Regions from separate parts of the Homo sapiens genome. Here regions 1, 2 and 4 are each linked to region 3. The links come from fine-mapping of genetic effects on gene expression. A gene starts in region 3. Each other region holds a variant in brackets. All regions are shown on one strand. Distances are from middle to middle. Region 1 overlaps SYTL3 (synaptotagmin like 3). Region 2 holds the start of MIR3918 (microRNA 3918). Region 3 holds the start of SYTL3 (synaptotagmin like 3). Region 4 overlaps TMEM181 (transmembrane protein 181).

Evidence for each region. PIP is the estimated chance that this variant, and not a neighbour inherited with it, causes the effect.
Region 1: its variant is the best candidate, but not a certain one, in a credible set for the expression of SYTL3 in Th2 cells (Schmiedel 2018, PIP 0.70).
Region 2: its variant is the best candidate, but not a certain one, in a credible set for the expression of SYTL3 in whole blood (TOPMed, PIP 0.66).
Region 4: its variant is the best candidate, but not a certain one, in a credible set for the expression of SYTL3 in whole blood (TOPMed, PIP 0.74).

What each region holds. Positions count from the first base shown.
Region 1 is chr6:158,671,565-158,677,588 of GRCh38, reverse strand. All of the region lies in intron 5 of SYTL3 (synaptotagmin like 3), which reads right to left. Among named protein-coding and RNA genes, the nearest start is that of SYTL3, 25 kb to the right of the region's middle. The variant T/ATTATTATTATT (reference allele first, on the strand shown) is at 3,491.
Region 2 is chr6:158,761,126-158,767,149 of GRCh38, reverse strand. SYTL3 (synaptotagmin like 3) reads right to left here. Exons shown (of 18, transcript NM_001242394.2): 16 at 4,972-5,074; 17 at 3,641-3,846; 18 at 2,279-2,655. The coding sequence ends at 2,546. It overlaps EZR (ezrin), which reads left to right. Exons shown (of 14, transcript NM_001111077.2): 14 at 72-1,402. The coding sequence ends at 236. MIR3918 (microRNA 3918) reads left to right here and starts at 2,397; the gene lies at 2,397-2,489. RefSeq lists a silencer at 3,999-4,293. The variant A/T (reference allele first, on the strand shown) is at 2,619.
Region 3 is chr6:158,647,149-158,653,172 of GRCh38, reverse strand. SYTL3 (synaptotagmin like 3) reads right to left here and starts at 3,119. Exons shown (of 18, transcript NM_001242394.2): 1 at 3,095-3,119; 2 at 1,331-1,420.
Region 4 is chr6:158,580,411-158,586,434 of GRCh38, reverse strand. It overlaps TMEM181 (transmembrane protein 181), which reads right to left. Exons shown (of 17, transcript NM_001376852.1): 3 at 5,440-5,495; 4 at 2,391-2,481; 5 at 1,010-1,131. Among named protein-coding and RNA genes, the nearest start is that of TMEM181, 23 kb to the right of the region's middle. The variant G/A (reference allele first, on the strand shown) is at 2,839.

The DNA.
Region 1 (6,024 bases), 24 kb before region 3:
GGGTTACAGGCACCCACCACCACAACCAGCTCATTTTTTTTTTATTATAAGTTTTAGGGTACATGTGCACAACGTGCAGGTGTGTTACATATGTATACATGTGCCATGATGTTGTGCTGCACCCATTAACTTGTCATTTAGCATTAGGTATATCTCCTAATGCTATCCCTCCCCGCTCCCCACAACATTCCCCGGTGTGTGATGTTCCCCTTCCTGTGTCCATGTGTTCTCATTGTTCAATTCCCACCTATGAGTGAGAAACATGCGGTGTTTGGTTTTTTGTCCTTGAGATAGTTTGCTGAGAATGATGGTTTCCAGCTTCATCCATGTCCCTACAAAGGACATGAACTCATCCTTTTTTATGGCTGCATAGTATTCCATGGTGTATATGTGCCACATTTTCTTAATCCAGTCTATCATTGTTGGACATTTGGGTTGGTTCCAAGTCTTTGCTATTGTGAGTAGGGCCATGATAAACATATGTGTGCATGTGTCTTTATAGCAGCATGATTTATAGTCCTTTGGGTATATATCCAGTAATGGGATTGCTGGGTCAAATGGTATTTCTAGTTCTAGATCCTTGAGGAATCGCCACACTGTCTTCCACAATGGTTGAACTAGTTTACAGTCCCACCAACAGTGTAAAAGTGTTCCTATTTCTCCACATCCTCTCCAGCACCTGTTGTTTCCTGACTTTTTAATGATCACCATTCTAACTGGTGTGAGATGGTATCTCATTGTGGTTTTGATTTGCATTTCTCTGATGGCCAGTGATGATGAGCATTTTTTCATGTGTTTTTTGGCCGCATAAATGTCTTCTTTTGAGAAGTGTCTGTTCATATCCTTCGCCCACTTGTTGATAGGGTTGTTTGTTTTTTTCTTGTAAATTTGTTTGAGTTCATTGTAGATTCTGGATATTAGCCCTTTGTCAGATGAGTAGGTTGCAAAAATTTTCTCTCATTCTGTAGGTTGCCTGTTCACTCTGATGGTGGTTTCTTTTGCTGTGCAGAAGCTCTTTAGTTTAATTAGATCCCATTTGTCAATTTTGGCTTTTGTTGCCATTGCTTTTGGTGTTTTAGACATGAAGTCCTTGCCCATGCCTATGTCCTGAATGGTATTGCCTAGGTTTTCTTCTAGGGTTTTTATGGTTTTAGGTCTAACATTTAAGTCTTTAATCCATGTTGAATTAATTTTTGTATAAGGTGTAAGGAAGGGATCCAGTTTCAGCTTTCTACATATGGCTAGCCAGTTTTCCCAGCACCATTTATTAAATAGGGAATCCTTTCCCCATTGCTTGTTTTTGTCAGGTTTGTCAAAGATCAGATAGTTGTAGATATGCAACATTATTTCTGAGGGCTCTGTTCTGTTCCATTGGTCTATATCTCTGTTTTGGTAACAGTACCATGTTGTTTTGGTTACTGTAGCCTTGTAGTATAGTTTGAAGTCAGGTAGTGTGATGCCTCCAGCTTTGTTCTTTTGGCTTAGGATTGACTTGGCAATGCAGGCTCTTTTTTGGTTCCATATGAACTTGAAAGTAGTTTTTTCCAATTCTGTGAAGAAAGTCATTGGTAGCTTGATGGGGATATAAATTACCTTGGGCAGTATGGCCATTTTCACAATATTGATTCTTCCTATCCATGAGATGGAGTCTCGCTCTGTCGCCCAGGCTGGGGTGCAGTGGTGCCATCTTGGCTCATTGCAAGCTCCGCCTCCCGGGTTCACGCCATTCTCCTGCCTCAGCCTCCTGAGCAGCTGGGACTACAGGTGCCCACCACCGCGCCCGGCTAATTTATTTTTGTATTTTTAGTAGAGACAGGGTTTCACCATGTTAGCCAGGATGGTCTCGATCTCCTGACCTCATGATCCGCCCATCTTGGCCTCCCAAAGTGCTAGGATTACAGGCGTGAGCCACTGCGCCCGGCCATTTTTGTGTTTTTAGTAGAGATGGGATTGCATCATGTCAGCCAGGCTGGTCTCGAACTCCCAACCTCAGGTGATCCACCCACCTCGGCCTCCCAAAGTGCTGGGATTATAAGCGTGAGCCACTGTGACCGGCCCTACTTCAACTAGTCTCGCATCTAAAATGGTTCATAGTTACAAAGCAAAATACTCGTTTTTTTCCACTAGCTCAATTGATCTGATTTCCACATCCTTACAGGAAAAAAAAGACTGATCATTGTGATTGAATCCTAGGTAACTATCAAAGGAGTCAGAGAATCAAGATGAAGATAAAGAAAGGGTTTTTATCAAGCTGTTACCAACACTTCTTACAAAACACGAATAACTCTCCCTTGCTTAACCTCAGAGAGAAGGCAGGTGCCCCCCTCTCTGTCACATCCAGTGCTATATTCACAGCTACAAGCTCTGGCCAGGCACATTACAGCCCCAGTGAATGAATGAATATCCTCCCCTCCGCAGGGGGGCATCCTTAGAATTAAAGAGATAAGGTGGGATCCAAAATAGGTGTAGCCTTGTAGCAGTGTGCACTGAAATTGAGTAAGTCTAACATTTAAGTCTTTAATCCATGTTGAATTAATTTTTGTATAAGGTGTAAGGAAGGGATCCAGTTTCAGCTTTCTACATATGTACATAGAGTAGGTGTCACACCCTCTAACTGTGTCGGGCAGGGCCACACACTGAGGGCCCAAGCAGAAACTGTAAATGAGGGAAGGGGGCTGGGAGGGGAGACAACAGGGAGGGGTGGGAACTTGCTTAACCAGAGGATACACACCCATTTTGAAGCACTAAAATGATCAATATTAAACACTGCGCAGGTCAGAACAAACAAGGTCTGTGCCCTGTCTGTCGTCTGTTGATGTCAAGTTTGTGACTCCTGGTCTGTTATATCAGATAACCAGTCAATGAAATTAGGAAAAATTCTACTGCAGCTGGACAGAGCCGTACTTGTTTAAGGCCTTGGCAATAAAAACGGTTAGATGCTGTGCCCCGACCTGTCCTCTCCCTGTAGACCTAAGAAGGGGGATCCACCACGACAGAGGGGCGATGAGAAGGCCGAAAGCAGGAGCACACGCTCTCTGTGGGCAACCGCTCAACCTGGCTTTCTAAAGAGACAACCAAGAGCTTCCGATAAAATGCCATAGTCAGGGTACATGGAGTCCAGAAGACCAGGCCAGCAGCCTCTGTGACCGTGCATCACCGTGGAACCAGAGGGAACTTTCAGAAAGCAGTCAGCCTCCAAAAACATTTAAGACCCACCTCTGAGAAAAAGACACAGCAAGATAGAAGGAAGAGCCAGGATGAAGAGACGGTGGGACTACAATAAGGGAATATTTCATAAACTAACAGAGCCAAAGCAGAATGAACTGTTTCATCAGCAGAAAAGAGCAGAAATGGCAGGCTAGAAAGTTGAATCTGTGAGGCTGACTTGGCAGAGACACTTGCCAGAATGTGAAAGAGAAAGAAAAAGACATTAAATGTTGAGGGAGAAGATTATCATCATCATCATCATTATTATTATTATTATTATTAT[T/ATTATTATTATT]ATTATTATTATTTTGAGACACAGTCTCACTATGTTGCCCAGGGTGGACTGCGGTGGTGCGATCTCGGCTCATTGCAACCTCCAACTCTCAGGTTCCAGCGATTCTCCTGCCTCAGCCTCCGGAGTAGCTGGGATTACAGGCATGTGCCACCACATCCAACTAATTTTTGTATTTTTAGTAGAGACAGGGTTTCACCATGTTGGCCAAGCTGGACTTGAATTCCTGACCTCAAGTGATCCGCCCAGCTCGGCCTCCCAAAGTGCTGGGATAACAGGTGTGAGCCACCACGCCCGGCCCGAGGAAGAAGATTATTAATACAAAGAGAAAAGGAAGCCAACTTATGCCTTCAAAGCTGTTCCTGGCGGGGCGTGGTGGCTCACACCTTTAATCCCAGCACTTTGGGAGGCTGAGGCAGTGGATCACGAGGTCAGAAGATTGGGACCATCCTGGCTAACATGGTGAAACCCCGTCTCTACTAAAAATACAAAAAATTAGGGGGGCATGGTGGCCAGCGCCTGTAGTCCCAGCTACTCGGGAGCCTGAGACAGGAGAATGGCGTGAACCTGGGAGGTGGAGCTGGCAGTGAGCCGAGATCGCCCCACTGCACTCTAGCCTGGGCAACAGAGCAAGACTCCGTCTCAAAAAAAAAAAAAAAAATGCTATTCCCAAAGAAGCTGTGTAAGTGGCATGAAAGCATCTTGAGAACAATCAGACTTGACTGAGGAAAGCATGACTGAGTTAAACCGAAATAAAAACCCAGGAGACCCAAGAGGGAGCAGCTCAAAAGAACGGCCCTTAATCCACAAAAACATCATTCCCAGACACATATTAGAAACTGTTTTTAATAAAAAGGATACAGAAAAAAAAAATAACTGGGCATGGTGGCTCACACCTGCAATCCTAGCACTTCGAGAGGCCAAGGCAGGAGGGTCACTTGAAGCTAGGAGTTCAAGACCAGCCTGGATAACATAGTAAGACCTTGTCTTAAAACATATCTATATCAGCCAGATGTGGTGGTGCGTACTTGGAGTCCCAGCTATTTGGGAGGCTGAGGCAGGAAGGTCTCTTGAACCCAGGCGTTGGAGGCTGCAGTGAGCTATGATCACACCCTGTACTCTAGCCTGGGTGACGGAGTGACACCCTGTCTCTAAAAAAACTAACTAGGTGAGGTGAGGTGGCTCACGCCTGAAATTCCAGCAGTTTGAGAGGCCGAGACGGGCAGATCACTTGAGGCCAGGAGTTTGAGACCAGCCTGACCAACAAGGTGAAACCCCTATCTCTACAAAAAAATACAAAAAATTAGCTGGGTGTGGTAACACACACCTGTAATCTCAGCTACTAGGGAAACTGAGGCAGGAGACTCACTTGAACCCAGGAGGCGGAGGTTGCAGTGAGCTGATATCGTGCCACTGCACTCCAGCCTGGGCGACAGAGTGAGACTCAGTCTCAAAAAAAAAATTAAATTAAAAAAATTAAAAACCAACTAAATAAAAAGTTTTAAAAGAGAATAAGGCTGCAGTCTCTGCCAAAAAAAAAAAAAAGAAACAAAAAAACCAGTATGTTTCTTCTACATAAAAATCAGGAGATAAACAATGAAATAAAAATAAAACTAGCATCAGCTGTCTCCATAATGTTAAATTCCAAAAGGCAACATGGCTGCATTTACTGAGTAAACAGTGGCAACCCAGGACTTAAAACCCAGTGAAATCATTCCTCATGAAGGAAGACCACGGAAAGCAACTCTCAAATACGCAATGACGTGGAAAATACACCACTCACAGTCCTCTCCTGGGGAAAAACTTTTTTTTTGAGACAGTCTTGCTCTGTCGCCCAGGCTGGAGTGCAGTAGTGCAATCTCGGCTCACTGCAACCTCCGCCTCCCGGGTTCAAGCAATTCTCCTGCCTCAACCTCCCAAGTAGCTGGGATTACAGGTACACACGACCATGCCCACCTAATTTTTTGTATTTTAGTAGAGACAGGGTTTCACTGTGTTGCCCAGGCTGGTCATGAACTCCTGAGCTTAGGCAATCTGCCCACCTCGGCCTCCCAAAGTGCTGGGATTACAGGTGTGAGGAAAAACTTCTTAAGGAGGCAATTCAAGTGATTGAAAAATGAATCAAAATAAAGAACTTGCAAACTGGGAAATCATGGTCTCCAAAGACTAGCAATGAGCACTTGAATCAGTTATAAAATGCAAAGTTGGTTTAAAATATTGTTGTAAATATAATCAGAAAACACTGAAGGTAACAAAAATAATTATGGAAAGAGATGCTGTATAACATATAGATAATAATTATAAAAATATAGAGGTTTCAAAATGATTGGCTAAATAATTTAAATAATTATCTTTTTTTTTTTTTTTAGACTGAGTCTCGCTGTCAGCTCACTGCAACCTCCGCCTCCCAGGTTCCAGAGATTCTCCTGCCTCAGCCTCCTCCAGAGTAGCTGGGATTACAGGGGTGCGCCATCATGCCCGGCTAATTTTTGTATTTTCAGTAGAGATGGGATTTCACCATGTTGGCCAGGCTGGTC
Region 2 (6,024 bases), 110 kb before region 3:
CTGTTTTCCTAGGGGACGGGCCGGGCCATATGGGGAGGAAGGGACTAGACCAATGCTGCTTAATGTTACAGACGCTGAGCAGCGAGCTGTCCCAGGCCCGAGATGAGAATAAGAGGACCCACAATGACATCATCCACAACGAGAACATGAGGCAAGGCCGGGACAAGTACAAGACGCTGCGGCAGATCCGGCAGGGCAACACCAAGCAGCGCATCGACGAGTTCGAGGCCCTGTAACAGCCAGGCCAGGACCAAGGGCAGAGGGGTGCTCATAGCGGGCGCTGCCAGCCCCGCCACGCTTGTGTCTTTAGTGCTCCAAGTCTAGGAACTCCCTCAGATCCCAGTTCCTTTAGAAAGCAGTTACCCAACAGAAACATTCTGGGCTGGGAACCAGGGAGGCGCCCTGGTTTGTTTTCCCCAGTTGTAATAGTGCCAAGCAGGCCTGATTCTCGCGATTATTCTCGAATCACCTCCTGTGTTGTGCTGGGAGCAGGACTGATTGAATTACGGAAAATGCCTGTAAAGTCTGAGTAAGAAACTTCATGCTGGCCTGTGTGATACAAGAGTCAGCATCATTAAAGGAAACGTGGCAGGACTTCCATCTGTGCCATACTTGTTCTGTATTCGAAATGAGCTCAAATTGATTTTTTAATTTCTATGAAGGATCCATCTTTGTATATTTACATGCTTAGAGGGGTGAAAATTATTTTGGAAATTGAGTCTGAAGCACTCTCGCACACACAGTGATTCCCTCCTCCCGTCACTCCACGCAGCTGGCAGAGAGCACAGTGATCACCAGCGTGAGTGGTGGAGGAGGACACTTGGATTTTTTTTTTTGTTTTTTTTTTTTTTGCTTAACAGTTTTAGAATACATTGTACTTATACACCTTATTAATGATCAGCTATATACTATTTATATACAAGTGATAATACAGATTTGTAACATTAGTTTTAAAAAGGGAAAGTTTTGTTCTGTATATTTTGTTACCTTTTACAGAATAAAAGAATTACATATGAAAAACCCTCTAAACCATGGCACTTGATGTGATGTGGCAGGAGGGCAGTGGTGGAGCTGGACCTGCCTGCTGCAGTCACGTGTAAACAGGATTATTATTAGTGTTTTATGCATGTAATGGACTATGCACACTTTTAATTTTGTCAGATTCACACATGCCACTATGAGCTTTCAGACTCCAGCTGTGAAGAGACTCTGTTTGCTTGTGTTTGTTTGTTTGCAGTCTCTCTCTGCCATGGCCTTGGCAGGCTGCTGGAAGGCAGCTTGTGGAGGCCGTTGGTTCCGCCCACTCATTCCTTCTCGTGCACTGCTTTCTCCTTCACAGCTAAGATGCCATGTGCAGGTGGATTCCATGCCGCAGACATGAAATAAAAGCTTTGCAAAGGCACGAAGCAGCACGGGTGTGTGCTTGTGTGTGGGGTGGGAGGGCTACCGCCGACTCGTCTGGGCTCTATGCTGTCCTCTGGCCAGGTTTCGTGAGGGGCCGTGGTGTCCCTGGGGGTACACTGGTAAGTTGGAGCTGACCAACCCAAGACATGGTGCTCCATGGGTCACCTAACCTCCTCGAGATGGTTTCCACAGGAGAGAAAGACTGCTCCAACACTCATCAGGCTCCTCTAAAATGCTCCTCATAGCCGGGCACAGTGGCTCACACCTGTAATCCCAGCACTTTGGGAGGCCGAGGTGGTCGGATCACGAGGTCAGGAGATCGAGACCATCCTGGCCAACATGGTGAAACCCCATCTTTACTAAAAATACGAAAATTAGCCTGGTGTGGTGGTGCATACCTATAATCCCAGCTACTTGGGAGGCTGGGGCAGGAGAATTGCTAGAACCCGGGAGGCGGAGCTTGCAGCAAGCCAAGATCGTGCCACTGCACTCCAGCCTGGTGACGGGGAGACTCCGTCTCAAAAAATAAAGTGCTTCTCACAGCGAAGCTGTGACTCCCCCCCCCGCCTTGAGACAGGGTCTTACTTTGGCCCAGGCTGGAGCACAGTTGCATGATCGGGGCTTACTGCAGCCTCAACCTCCTGGGCTCAATCCTCCCGGTTCAGCCTCCTGAGTAACTGGGACTACAGGTGTGTACCACCACACCTGGATAATTTTTTGGTTTTTTTGTAGACAGGGTATCTATGTTGCCTGGGCTGATCTCACACTTCTGAGCTCAAGCCATCCACTGCAGCCTCCCAAAGTTGCTGGGATTACAGGGGGGAGTTACCATGCCCACCAGCCGGCCTTTTACCTCATTTGATAAGCACTGGAGGACATGGGTAACAACGTTTATTAAAATCTGGCCATTTTCTACATCTCAAAGAGGAGATAACCCACCAGAGGCTTAGGTAACATAATTGTGTTTAACGTAAATATACACAGATACCAATAGGCGGTTAAGCCATGGGACAGGGCCGCAGATGGAGACTGCTCAAGGTCAAAGGGGTCTCCAGCTGGGACCCTGCACCTGGTTCGTAGCCCCTCTGCAGACGCACAGTGCCTCACGCCTGCTGCAACCTGGAACCTTGAGGCCTTCATGTCAGTGCAGGACAAGAGTCATGTCTGTCCATAGATTGGGGCTGGAAAGGACTTTCTGCCACTGGAGCTTCGAT[A/T]GTGAGCATGCATCCCCGCCAACAGCTGTGTCTCCCTCTGTAAGAGAGGAAGACAATTTAGCCATGGTCGGGGAGGGCACCACTTCATCCCCTCTCATCCCTTTAAAAATGATGACCAGCCAGAAGTTTTTCACCTCAAGTCCACATTAAAAGGCCAACCACTGATGACAGACGCCGCCACCACCACTCCCACCCCAACAAAGCTGGTGTTGAGACTGGGATTCACGCAGGCATCCTCTGCTCTGCGAGGCTCTAACAGCCTGGAGTTCTGTAGTTTGAAAGTGAGGCGAGGACTCTGGTTTGGTGGGCTGGGTCTTCACCAAGGGAGTGGATAGTTGCACACCAGCATGGCTAGCTGGGTGGGGCCGTCTCAGACTGGGGGCTGGGCTTGCCCATGGGAAGGGATTCTTAGAGGAAGACAGTATGCTTTGGACAAAATATCTTTGAAAAGCAATGGAGCAGTGAAGCTTATTTCTCTTCAGTCACTGGTTCTCAGTTGGAGGTCCTTGGAGATGTGTGCAGGTGTTTTTGGTTGTCATCATGTCAGGGACACTGCTGGCAGCCAGAAGCAGTGCCAGGCACAGAACCTCACAGCAGAGGGCTGTCCACCTACCATGCCGGCGGTGCCCTGCCGAGCGGCTCTGGACAGCACTGCTGTTCTGACCACTTTTGATGAAGTACTTTCTGAATTGCCATTTGTTTAAGAAGATATTTTCATTTAAGAAAATAATCCTTTTATGATTGACGCCAGAAACAAAAGCAAATACTGTACCTAGCCCGTTTGGAGGCCTATAATTTTTGTTTCTTTAGCAGATCTAAATCTGATTTAAATTGTCAAAATACTTGGCTGTATTATGGCTCAGCTGTAGAGTAAAAACTAGACTTAGGCATTTCCAATTAAGGCAGGCTAGGCAATTTCAAAACCAGTTAAGTCACTGCCCTGGTGGAAGCATTTTCTTTGCACGGTACCCATTAGGATAATCACAAAGTATAAACGTTTGGGCTCAATGTCTCAGACTTACTTGAACCAAGTCTGGTTCCTCCAAGCAAGCGGTCGTTCATTCCAAAGAGGGCCTGATCCCAGACAGTTAACTCCAAGCTTGACTGCCTCAGCTGAGCTGGGGTTACGCCACTGAAGACAAATGAGTGTTTCCACTGGGGGCAAGCCTGCTTCCTCAGGACTGGCGACTTCAGTCTCAGTTTTTGTTGGTCTGGCAGAGTGAGACAGCTGAAGAGGGAACACAAACCCTGCAATCATTGCCATCCACACGGCCTTCTCTCCTGAGGCCTGTGCGTCAGTGCAGACGGGAAGCACTAAGAAAAGTGCCAAGTCCACAACATCCACACCCTCCCCAGTGAAGCAGGGTGGGAACCACAGGACTCGGCACATTTCCCTTAGGGCCGAATTCTGCATCAGGTATGAAGGGCGAGCTGCATGCTGAGGCCTCGTGGCCCTCATCTTAATCTTTCCTCCTTGGGGTGCCTCCCACCATGACTGCAGATACACGTTATCTCCTTTTAACCCTGTTCTCAGGAAAATCAACTCAGACAAGCTTGTCCAAGGCCATGCAGATAAGCAACAAGATTAGAACATAAGCTCAGTTCTCCTTTTTTTGAGACGGAGTTTTGTTCTGTCGCCCAGGCTGGAGTGAAGTGGCACCATCTCAGCTCACTGCAACCTCCTCCCCCCAAGTTCAAGGAAGACTCCTATCTCAGCCTCCAGAGCAGCTAGGATTATAGGTGCCCGCCACCACACCCAGCTAATTTTTGTATTTTTAGTAGAGATGGGGTTTCATCATGTTGGCCAGGCTAGTTTTGAACTCCTGACCTCAGGTGATCCACCTGCCTCAGCCTCCCAAAGTGCTGGGATTACAGGCACGAGCCACTGCGTCCAGCCTGAGTTCTATCTTGACCGTCATTTTTCCCTATGTCACTGACGGGGAGTTTGCAATTCAATGTAATAATGGTATTTGCCTTACTTTTAGAGGGGCCAATGCACCTATACTGAATGAGAATGAAATGTGGACAGTCATGCGTTTTACTGTTGGTCCAAGAGGAGATGTTAAGCTTAGGAAATATTTACTGACCACACCACATTTTCATGCTTGATTTCAAAACTGGCTTCCTGATATCACAGAACTGAGAAGATTAGGGTTTCGAGTACTCCAGCATGTACACATCCCGTGAATTTTTGGAAATCAGGGTCTTTAATATGTGTTGTTAGATTTTCATAGGAAAGCTAAAATAAGACGTTTTAAGTGGCTTACGTTTTTTAGTGTTCGCTGCAGGTTCTGGGCCATGTTGTGATGTATACTAGATCACCAATAAATATTTGATTACATCGAATACCTACCCCTTAACAAATGAGTTCAAGGTGCCATCTGGCCGCACAGGTAAATTCTTGGCTCCTAGCACTACCAAACAAAGTTGACCATGAAGTGATGGCTGATCTGTCCCTGGAAGGAAAGCCAGTATTCACTGTCAAACCATGTCTCCTGATACGTTAGTATGCAGTACCACCACCCCAAAACCGAGAGCTCAGCTAGAGAATCTGCTACAGCCCTCAGACCCCGAGAGAGCAGATGGGAGTGGTGCAGTGGGCTCTGCTGGCCCTGCCCACAGGCTGTGGCGCTGCCCACACCGTGCCGCTCTGTGGTCAGGTGGAGGACAGGATGGAGGGATTACTAAGATCCTAGAAAAGAGTAAAGAGGAACGCAAGGAGAGGGAAGATGCCGAAGTTTGAGTCTAGTTGTAGCCAGAAGTTTGGGGGAAAGTGAGAGCCCCGAGACCCTGTCTAGGAGGTTGGGATGGCCATGGGGCACTTGCTGCTGGTCTGCTGGTGACCCCGTGAACTTGGGTAGCAGAATTTCCTCTTCTAGCCAAATAGGGAGTCAGCAAAATACACAACAGAAATGTGCATTCTGGGCCGGGCGTGGTGGCTCACGCCTGTAATCCCAGCACTTTGGGAGGCCAAGGTGGGCGGATCATGAGGTCAGGAGATCGAGACCATCCTGGCTAACATGGTGAAACCCTGTCTCTACTTAAAGAAAAAAAACAAAAAATTAGCCGGGCATGGTGGCAGGTGCCTGTAGTCCCAGGTACTCGGGAGGCTGAGGCAGGAGAATGGCATGAATCAGGGAGGCGAAGCTTGCAGTGAGCCAAGATCGGGCCACTGCACTCCAGCCTGGGTGACAGAGCAAAACTCTGTCTCAAAAAAAAAAAAAAAAAAAGAAATGTGCATTCTCCCAGTCCTCCTTCCCCGCCCTCCTCCTCCTCCACCCTCCTGCTTTCCACACGCCCCACGTTATTGAAGGAGTAAAATCTCCATAGGGTCCCTGAGGACCCTCCCTCCTGACCTACTTCTTTTGCTGGGCAGCAGCTACCCACATGCCTGGGGGCGGGGATT
Region 3 (6,024 bases):
GAATAAAGAACAGCTCTCAGCTCAGTTCCCTATTCATAGGCTTAAAAGACTCATTTTTGCAACAATGAGACAGCACGCATGCATATCCATCAGAAAGTCTGACACAGAAATGAAGATGTGCGTTTATACATTTTCTGTCTATCTTGTTACTCATTCAGAGGTGGGTTTTCTGGGAAGCGAATGACACCTCAACTTCAGAATCCTTTATTTGCACGGCCCTGTCCAAGGCCCTAGATGCCCTGTACCTGGTTCCCTCTTTGTTTTCCCAAAGTCTCCACAAGTTGTACAAGTTTCAGGTCCCTCAGATATCTCTACTTCACATTAGAAGACTCGGCTGGGTGCGGTGGCTCACGCCTGTAATCCCAGCACTTTGGGAAGCTGAGGTGGGTGGATCACGAGGTCAGGAGTTTTGAGACCAGCCTGGCCAACATGGTGAAACCCTGTCTTTACTAAAAATACAAAAATTAGCCGGGCATGGTGGTGGGCACCTGTAATCCCAGCTACTCGGGAAGCTGAGACAGAATTGTTTGAACCTGGGAGGTGGAGGTTGCAGTGAGCTGAGATCGCGCCATTGCACTCCAGCCTGGGTGACAGAGCGAGACTCTGTCTCAAAAAAATAAATAAGGCCGGGCGTGGTGGCTCACGCTTGTAATCCCAGCACTTTGGGAGGACGAGGCAGGTGGATCATGAAGTCAGGAGATGGAGACCATCCTGGCCAACATGTTAAAACCCTGTCTCCACTAAAAATACAAAAAAATTAGCCAGGTGTGGCGGCAGGTGCCTATAGTCCCAGCTACTTCGGAGGCTGAGGCAGGAGAATGGTGTTAACCCGGGAGGCAGAGCTTGCAGTGAGCTGAAATTGCAGCCACTGCACTCTAGCCTGGGCAACAGAGTGAGACTCTGTCTCAAAAAATAATAATAATAAAATAAGTAAATAAATAAACAGGCTGGGCTCGGTGGCTCACACCTGTAATCCCAACACTTTGGGAGGCCGAGGTGGGTGGATCACCTGAGGTCAGGAGTTTGAGACCAGCCTAGCCAACCTGGTGAAACCTCATCTATACTAAAAATACAAAAATTATCTGGGCATGGTGGCAGGCACCTGTAATCCTAGCTACCGGGGAGGCTGAGGCAGGAGAATCACTTGAACCTGGGAGGCAGGGGTTGCAGTGAACCGAGATCGTGCCATTGCACTCCAGCCTGGGCAACAGAGTGAGACTCCATCTCAAATAAATAAAAAAAAATAAAAATACATAAAAATAAATAAATAAATAAATAAAACATTAGAAGACTCACACGTGGGCTTGAATCTATAAAACTTGAAGCCTACCTGAGAGAGGACAAAGTTGAACAGGCGCTTTCTCTGAAAGATCACTGCAATTCACCGCTGATTCCGAGTATTCTTTCTCATTCGGGGAGCCTTTTACCACCCAAAAACAACAAAAAATATTACTTTAGAATCAGAAATAGGAATTCATGACTGAAATAGGAAGCCATGGCATTCATACTTTAAACTTGACCTCTTTGTATGGAAGAGCAAAGAAATGAGAATTAATATTATTATTTATTTATTTATTTATTTATTTGAGATGGAGTCTCGCTCTGTCACCAGGCTGGAGTGCAGTGGCGCGATCTCAGCTCACTGCAACCTCCACCTCCCGGGTTCAAGCAATTCCCCTGCCTCAGCCTCCTGAGTAGCTGGGACTACAGGCGCCCGCCACCACACCCAGCTAATTTTTTTGTATTTTTTAGTAGAGTTTCACCATGTTGGCCAGGATGATCTCGATCTCTTGACCTCATGATCCATCCGCCTAGGCCTCCCAAAGTGCTGAGATGACAGGCGTGAGCCATCACACCCGGCCGAGAATTAATATTATTATATCCTTCTAGGTACTACTCACAATTGTTGTTATGCTTTCTGTTGTGCCAACAGCTACTATTTATTTAGCTCTTACTCTGAACCAGATAGTTTAAGTACTTTGCATACATTATCTCTACTAATCCTTATTGCCACATTATGAAGTAAATGTACCCATTCTACAGATGAGGAGAGTGAGTCTTGGAGTGATTAAGTAACTTACCTAAACTCACACTCTAAACTGGGTCTGTTTAACTCCAAAACCTTATGCTTCATTTAGGCAAAGCAGCTAAGTTAGAATCTCCAACTATCTTGGCTAAATAATCTTTTCTACACCAATTCTAATTTCTTTTTTTCTTTTTTTGAGACGGAGTCTTACTCTGTTGCCCAGGCTGGATTGCAGTGGCAGGATCTTGGCTCACTGCCACCTCCGCCTCCCAGGTTCAAGTGATTCTCGTGCCTCAGCCTCCTGGGCAGCTGGGATTACAGGTGCCTGCCACCACACCCAGCTAATTTTTGTATTTTTTTTTTTTTTTTAGAGATGGGGTTTCATCATGTTGGCCAGGCTGGTCTCAAATTCCTGATCTCAAGGGATCTACCCACCTTGGCCTCCCAAAGTACTGGGATTACAGGCGTGAGCCACCGCACCCAGCCCAATTCTAATTTAATAAATCTTTAATATCTAATGTGCACTTTCCTCTCATAGTCTCTTTCTTACCAAGCAATTTAGAGATTAAGGAAGCTTAATTAAAAGAAATTTAAATTAGACCCTAGCTAACTTTTTTATAATTCCAAAATGATATTTATGTTCCACCTCCAAACGAGAAATTACGGATGATCAAAACAATAAAGTCGATTCAGAGAGAGCAAAATAGTAATAAACTGTAAGTATAAGAATTTGCAAACCAAAGAAGAAAGCAAATGACACTCTACCCTTTAAAAAAAAAAATCACACCATATAGCTTTTGGATAGTGTTTTTCTGTTTTGTTTTGGTTTTTAATTAACTCTGAAGTCACTTCCACCATATCACTTAAATCATTATTATCTCAAATGTTAAATGTATGTTATTCAATAAAATTACAAGATATCTTTTATCTAATTTATTATGTTTTGTTTCCTACCTTTTCAATGTCATAAATTTAAGAAAAGTTACAATAACTATAATCTCTACCCACCCCACTCCCCCACTCCTAAAACGACCTGCTGCAACGGCCAGCCATGCCTTCTCATCCTACCTTCGCATCTGCTTCAAGAGAAGAGACCAGAGCCGGCTCTGCAGAGAAGGAAGTCAATTCTTCTTGTTAGAGTAACTGACGTATTTCTCTTCCCTTCCTGTCGGGCACAGGCTGACGCAGTGCACCCTGTGTGGCCAGCCTTACATGCCTCGGTGGCTACTCCCACATCACTAGGGACCCAGGGAGCAAAGCCACCCCAAAACCACATCAAGGAGCTCTTCTATGCCAACATTTTACATTTTTAGCTGGAGGAAAGACCAGGCTGATGCTGGTGAAATGTTTCACCCTTCCTAAGGAAACTCCCTACAGAGACTACAGCCTTCAAATATTCAAATGTTCTCACATTTGTGAAGGGTTTCACATTGACTTCAGTGTAAATGACTAACCACATCTCAAAGAACAGCTATTAACTCAAGAATAATTTACAAGAAAGGGGGACAGCCAGGCCAAGAGCGATGAAGATTGTAATGAAATCACCAAGGGGAACCTTCAAAATGCTGTGCGTGTACTAGGTAGTATTACTCAGCACCGTGAAGTGTCCCTGCCCTGCTAACTCAGGCATGGCCAAGGACTTGCTCTGGAGAGCAATAAGACAATGAAGTGTGTGCAAAGGTGCCACGTGCCACGTAGGCTTGGCACCTACCGAGCCAGTACTGGGGCCACCATTCATTCTCTTTCCCTTCTCTTTCCCTTGATGACTCCAGACACAGGCTGCTCCAGCAACCTCGTCTCAGCATGGAGAAGACATGAAGCAGAGCCATGGAAGATCCTTGATGGTCATGGAGTGTGAGTGGCAAATAAATGTTTGCTGTCATCAACCACTGAGAGTGTAGGGCCATTTGTTTCTGCAGCTAACCTAGCCTATTCTGCTGATGTAGTGTGTAGTGTTTTCACAAACACAGAACTGAGCACCAAACTATTTAATAACTACTATAGCATGAATATTTACCCATTGGAACAAATGCCAGCGGAGGCCCTGCTATACCACGAGTTATCCTTTAGTTATTGGATCTTGGGGATGAGGTCCCAGGGAAGGGGCTGCAGTCACCAGGATTGAGAGGAAGAGGGACCCAAGAAGCTCAGAGCAGCCACTGTTTCATGGGGTACAGAGGTATTTCAGCACAACTGTGCCTCCGCTTCCCAGCTCAATAGCAGATCTAAATATAGGCACTTCTTAGCTAATCTCTTTAGCTTTTCTCAGCACAGGACTCTCACTTTAGATATGTGTCAGCCAGAGTTTCTTTTCCTTTACAACATTAAATTCCTCAGCCATGAGTGTTTCAACAGCACCCTCGTCCTCATCGTCTTCTTCTGTTACTATTATTTTGACTCAGCATGATCTCATAGTAACACACTTCTTGGCACAGGGGAAGAAAGGAAAAAATGGAAAATCCACAGGATGGCATTTGGACTATGAAGGGCTGCAGATTATAGCAGAACAACACTGCTGGATATTATTATTATTATTATTTTTTTTTTTTTTTTTTTGAGACCGAGTCTCGCTCTTTCACCCAGTCGGGACTGCAGTGGCGCGATCTCGGCTCACTGCAAGCTCCGCCTCCCGGGTTCACGCTATTCTCCTGCCTCAGCCTCCCGAGTAGCTGGGACTACAGGCGCCCACCACCGCACCCAGCTAATTTTTTGTATTTTTAGTAGATACAGGGTTTCACCGTGTTAGCCAGGATGGTCTCGATCTCCTGACCTCGTGATCCGCCCGCCTCGGCCTCCCAAAGTGCTGGGATTACAGGCGTGAGCCACCACGCCTGGCCTATTATTTTATTTTTTGAGACGGAGTTTCGCTCTTGTTACCCGGGCTGGAGTGCAATGGCGCTATCTCAGCTCACCGCAATCTCTGCCTCCTGGGTTCAAGCGATTCTCCTGCCTCAGCCTCCCAAGTAGCTGGGATTACAAGCATGCACCACCATGCCTGGCTAATTTTGTATTTTTAGTAGAGATAGGGTTTCTCCATGTTGGTCAGGCTAGTCTCGAACTCCCGACCTCTGGTGATCTGCCCACCTCAGCCTCCCAAAGTACTGGGATTACAGGTGTGAGCCACTGCGCCCAGCCACTGCTGGATATTATTGATGTTATTTATTGATGTGACAGTTCATTGATTGCTATGATTATTAGGCCCACACTTGCTAAATAAAGGTATTGGCAGCTCCAGTCCCACAGTCTGTATTCAAGAAATTTGACTCCAGAAAAGAAAGGTGATTGCACGCAAACCTGCCAACCTATCACTAACCTCCAAATTGAAAAACAAACCTAAGATTCACTCCACTGACTTACTGCATAGAAACTAAACATTATTCTAAAATATGGCAGAATGCCAAAGATTCATGAGCAGTTACGAGTAAAGGTGTCTGAGCTCCAATGCTTCTGATGGACATCCATTCGTGGCAGATGGAAGGTGCTGGAAATGGCATCTGGTGAACTGCCAAATGTCTTAACGATTTTAAATTCCTTAGCCCTACAGACTACATCAGTTGGGCAGAATATAATACCACATCACTGCATTTTTCCAAGCACTACAACATCACATAAGCCTAGAGAATTCAAACCCTCCTATTTACAGATATATCCGTTTAAAAGAAAAAATTCCATAAAGGCCATGTTTTAGTCAACTTTGTAGCCTCAACCCCCAGCTCAGAGCCTGACACAAAGGGAGTGCTCCATATATGTGTATTGAACAAGTGAACAGATAGTTGTGAAGATAAACAGACCAGCTCATCCGTTTACTGGCAGCCTCAAAATGTCATACATCGCGATCATTTAACAAATGTTCTTTAATAGTTAAAATTGGAGAGTGGTACCCAATGTATAAAAGCTAAAATCATGTAAGCATTTTTAAAATGCACATTTGCATGTTTTCTGTTGATTTATGTGCATGCTGGTGATCCGCAGTTATAACAAGATCCATGCATTAATTA
Region 4 (6,024 bases), 67 kb after region 3:
CCATGAGGACTGAATGAGACAATGAGTGGACGGTACTTGGCATGACACCCAGCAGAGAAACTACTTGCCATCTGGCTTCTGACATTACTTTCCTAATCCTATAAGAAAATGCACTGCCCTGTTTTGATGCTCTCCAAGTTCTCCACGCTGCCAGTAACCTGTTGTGCCTGAGGTGGACTCCTCGCTCTAGCAGGGATCTGGTTCTGATTCTTTGGACTCTGAACAGAATACAGTGCCAATGAAATCAAGCGTGAGGGCTCATTCCCCACTGTGGACCCAGGTTTCCTATCCCTTAGCCACACTGTGCTCTGAAGTAGATGCTCAAAAAGGTAGGCCCCTGACGCCCAAGAGGCCCAGGTACTTGGCTTCACACAGACGGATTAGGGCATGCATCACTCGGCTGGGAACAACCCAAAGCCTCAGTCAAGAGTGACCATGGAAAATTAGTCAGCCCTGGTAGCATACGCTTGCAGTCCCAGTTACTTGGGAAGTTAAGGCAGGAGAATTGCTTGAGCCCAGGAGTTTGAGGCTGCAGTGAGCTGTGATTGTGCCACTGCACTCCAGCCTGGTTGACAGAGCAAAAACCTGTCTCTAAACAAAATAAAACAAAAAAACCCAGTGACCACAGCCTGTGGCAGACGTTCGTATGAGGAGGCAGCCCATAACATTCATTAGGGACACACTGGGCAGAAGGTCACACACACAGTAAAAACAAGTACCGTGTATGCTCAGGGTGGCTAGCAGTATATGTGTGTGCATGCATATGTGCGTACACGTGTGTTTACGGATGTGTGAATGCATGTGTACGTTTATAAGAATTTTTAAGGGTATCCAACTGTAAAAATAAGTAAGTTTTTTCATGCCATCTTTGGTATGACTCCATTTTTTTCACTTAAGAACAATTTCTCGAAGCCTCTTACCATGCTATCTTTTAGACTGGAAAGTGGCTCTGTAATTAAACGTGTACACAGCCTGAGGACTGACTGTGGGGCTCACCCCACACACTCACCCCTGCACATGTGAGGGTCCTTGTCCGGTTGTGAACTTTGTTATGAATGTACATCGTGGTTCCATCTTGAGCTACACCATCGACTTTAACAGTCATGGGAAAGCTTGTCTTAATAGAAGTTTCTACAAAAGAAAAAAATTCAGTGTTAGAGACCATGCCAGGCACATCACACCTACAAAGGTGCCTTCCTGGCTCTGTAATGACCTTGGAGCCAGGAAAACGCTTAAGGTCCTTAGGCCACATTGGCCTCAGCACATTTGAAAATCTCTTAATTGCCCAGCAAAGTAAAAGCCTTTCCATTAGATTCCAACCCAGCACCCAGGGGGTCTATGTCAAAACCTGCACTTCAGACCCATCAGTTTCACTTCACACACAAAAAAAGGGTAAATATTTCATGGCTAATGAACTTATATTTTTAATTTCTCACATACATTTTTAACTTACCAAATTCTATACCAAAAATAGAAATAGATTTCTTATTTCTTCTGATTATAGGTTTTTCTCATTATATTCTCATTTTAAAAAAATCATAAAATATAAAGATAGCATTAAATACTGAGAATTTCACCTAGAGATAATCGTAATTCATATTTCATGTCTATCCTTCCAGACCATTTTCTAGACAAATACGTAGTAATATGAATTTTTTGCTTTCTAAAATGTTACAAAGAGGGGATAATTTTTTCGTAATATATATTTGTTTCACTTCATTTACTGTGGTCATGGGGTTATCTTTTCAAATTCTTTCTCAACCAGAGTGTCTCATGTGAGGCACAGAACAGAAAAGGATTTGGTTATCTTCTCAATTCTCCCTAGGATGATACAAAACTAGTGCCACTGTAGACTGACAGAAGCTAATTCATCATAAACAATGGATGCATTAGGGGAGGGTTTCTCAGCCTCTGCATCACTGACATTTTGGGCCAGATAATTCCTTGTTGTGAAAGTGGGGGAGGTGTCGGCACCTCTGCCCTCTACCCACTAGATGCCTGGAGCACTCCCTCCTCCTCTCCGTGTGTGACGAAATTGTCTCAAGACATTGGCAAGTGTCCCTGGGGGCCAGAACCATTATTTTAGGGCATCAGGTCTTAATTCTCTCCCAGATCCTCACTGAAAAAGGCTGGCAGCTGTAGCGCCGACACCATGCAGCCACTGAGCGGAGCTAACCAGGACTCCACGGAGGACGTCTATCTATCGCAACTTTCTCTCCCACTGGAAGACATTTAAGGGGTTTCCAATTTGTTGCTATGATAAATAATAATGGACATCCTTATACATCTATCTTTGAGCACTTGCTTGTCTGAATATTCTGAAGTCAACATCTAAAATACGATGTTTCTTCGTATAATGAAAAATCATTCCAAAATGTCAAGCTCCATACCTTTTGATTGATCCAACTCAACAACACATGTCAGCCATAGTTGCTGATTGTATGTAGACAGTGGATTTGAAAGTATTTGAATTGGCTTTAGCTGAAGAAAAAAAAACAAAGTAATCCATGTGACCTTTTCATTGAGTCTACCAAATACCTCATCGTTTTAACACACAAAGTTTACTTTTAGCAATAAAGGCTTCAGTGTTAGCTTTGAAACAGAAATATGTGAGGTTTTCCTTCTTTTTTTTATTTTGATGGAGTCTCACTCTGTCGCCTAGGCTAGAGTGCAGTGGCGCGATCTCGGCTCACTACAAGCTCTGCCTCCTGGGTTCACGCCATTCTCCTGCCTCAGCCTCCCGAGTAGCTGGGACTACAGGCGCCCGCCACCACGTCCAGCTAATTTTTTGTATTTCTAGTACAGACGGAGTTTCACCGTGTTAGCCAGGATGGTCTC[G/A]ATCTCCTGACCTGGTGATCCGCCCACCTCGGCCTCCTAAAGCGCTAGGTTACAGGCATTAGCCACTGCGCCCGGCCATGAGGTTTTCCTTTCAAGAACATAAGTGACATTTTGCCTTTCAGAAGAAGAAACGACTAACTTCCAGCAGCAATTCACGTCTGTCTCTCACAGAAATCTCTAAGCAGACATTTTTCACACTGGGACCCTTGGGGACAATACACTTACTTAAATATCAAGAAAAAAACCATCTTGGAAAAAGAATAAAATGAGCAGAATGATGAGATACATACTAAGACAATAAAGAATACCAAAGGAATGCTTTCATATTTACAAGATAATATATCTCAAGAATTATTATTTTTTGAGACGGGAGTCTAGCTCTGTCACCCAGGCTGGAGAGCAGGGGCGTGATCTCGGCTCACTGCAACCTCTGCCTCCCAGGTTCAAGTGATTCTCCTGCCTCAGCCTCCCAAATAGCTGGGATTACAGGCACCTGCCACCACACCCAGCTAATTTTTCTATTTCTAGTAGAGATGGAGTTTCACCGTGTTGGCCAGACTGGTCTTGAAGTCCTGATCTCATGATCAGCCCACCTCGGCCTCCCAAAGTGCTGGGATTACAAGCATGAGCCACTGCGCCCGGCCAAGAATTATTTCTGAAGTATCCATATGCCAGGCAAATTGCTCTTTGACGTCTGCTATTTTTAGCCTTCTGAAAGAAAATCTTAACACCCCTGGGGAGAAAAATTAGAGGTGATGATGTTGCCAGTGATTCTTCTGCAGTATCTTTTGAAAGACGTAATACTGGTGTTTAATAGCAGCAGGCCACAGAGAGAGTTACTGAAGCAGCCCACCCATGGTTCCAAAGAAAAGCATTATCTGAATGCATCGTCTTTGGAGGTGAATGGGTTTTTTCTTTTTTTTTCTTTTTTAAGACAGGGTCGTGCTCTGTCACCCAGGGCTGGAGTGTAGTGGTGCAATCATGGCTTACCGCAGCATCAACCTCTCAGGATCAAGAGATCCTCCCACCTCAGCCTCCCAAGTAGCTGGGACTACAGGTATGCCCCACCACACCCAGCTTATTTTTAAATTTGTTGTAGAGACACAGTCTCCCTATGCTGCCCAGGCTAGTCTCAAGTGAATGTGTTTTTGTGTCTTAATACTTCTGTCAGGGTCTCAATAAAACTCCCTAGGACTAAAGATTTGCCTAAAAACCATCAAGGCAGGAAATCTCTCCAGGAATGAGCTACTGTCTTAGTGAAGTGAGGATGGTCTCTTGGAAGCAAGTCAGTTCAGTGGAATGGCTGCTGTGTTCAGTGTCAAAGAGAGACTCACACCCTGAGAGACAGAAACTGTAAAAGATGAACTACTATCAGGAAAGCCCACGGCGGCACCTCCTCAAATCAGATCATCACGCCAACAGTGAAAGAAAATAAAGCAATGCAAAGGAAATGTGAAAACAGGCTATGCAGAGGGCCCTTTCAAACTAGCAGTAGCAAAGAGAAAAATCAAATGGTGTAAGTTTTAGTACTTTTTCTTCTTTTGACTTTTTGCAAAATTATAAGGGTAGAAAACTAGCAGGGAAGTGTGAGAACAGAGAGAAGGGGGATTTGGGGTCATACAATCAGATTTAAACTATATATATCATGGTGCCTCGAAGATACAGGGCAACTGTGTTCAGTTTATAGGTAAAGTTATGTTTCACACACAAAAAAAGGTTTAGTTGTCTGGGCTCTCACAGGTTAGTATTTATTCAAGGAAACCAAAATTCTCCAATTGAAAGAAGCTCTGTTTTTCTCTAAAGGTGGTAAAAAAGTTAAGGCTTTTTTTTTTTTTTTTTTTTTGAGACAGAGTCTCACTCTGTCACCCAGGCTGGATGCATTGGCACGATCTTGGCTGACGGCAAGCTCCCCCGCCCGGGTTCACACCATTCTCCTGCTTCAGCCTCCCGAGTAGCTGGGACTACAGGCGCCCCCCCACCACGCCCAGCTAATTTTTTTGTATTTTCAGTAGAGATGGGGTTTCACCATGTTAGCCAGGATGGTCTCAATCTCTTGACCTCGTGATCAGCTCACCTCAGCTTCCCAAAGTGCTGGGATTACAGGCATGAGCCACCTCACCTGGCCAAGTTAAGGTGTATTTTTTAAAGGATTTTTCATTTAAATTGAGTTCACACAAGGAATACAAAGTAATCATTAGAAAGAAATGTACCATTAGAAATCTGACAGAGGCCAATTCTTAACCTGGGCAAATATAAGATGAGACACCTAAGTGGTATCATTATTAAAAATTACAATCTGATAGGACTTACAGAGGCAAGGAATCAGGATGAGTTAGCCACTCTTTGGAAATGAACAACTGCTCCCTAAGAGGTAACACCACCATCTTCCTAAGTACTGAGGTGTTTATTACAGCAGAAATGGTGACTTTAGCAAACAAGAACCCAGATGCCAGCAGCTGACAATGGAAGAAGAAATGTGTTGCCTGAGAAGCCGCAAGGCAAGGGAAGGCTACCTTAAAGACTCTAAGCGGAACCATTTCTCAGTGACCTGAGGTTTATAATGCACCCCACCACCCAGCTGCCACTCAGACCCAGTCTTACCTTTTTGCTATTATTTAGTGAAAAATTAGCCGCAGAAGTCTGGATCACTTTAGGTCCTAAAGTGTAACAGAAAAGGACAAAAGCAGATTATAGCAATATTGATAATTTAGTATTTTTTTCCAAATTCCAAGAAAGACTCACACATTACACGGAGATGACCTTAATTCACCTGGTTTTTCTTTAGAGATTATACAATGTGTAAGTAGAAGATATAAACACACAAACACAGACACAGAATATCCACTCTGCTGTGCTTCACGACTTCCCAACACAAGTCAACCAGCATGACTGGCATACAACACAGAGGGTTTCCACAGGAAACACCCTGCTAGGCTCTCAATGAGAGCACTCTCTACATGCATGGGCCCAAGAAGGCATTAACTATAGAGACTCTGTCTTATATATTCTGTAAAATATAAAGATTTCTTCCAAAACCTAAGACACACTTATCTGCTCATCCAATTAATCCCGTCTTCCAAAAATACTTATTAAGGGCTATAAACATAATATATGCTAATATAAGCAGGAAAGCATAAAGTTTTAACTAATAGGTATACGAACCTCATAGTTTTTTTTCCAATTTTT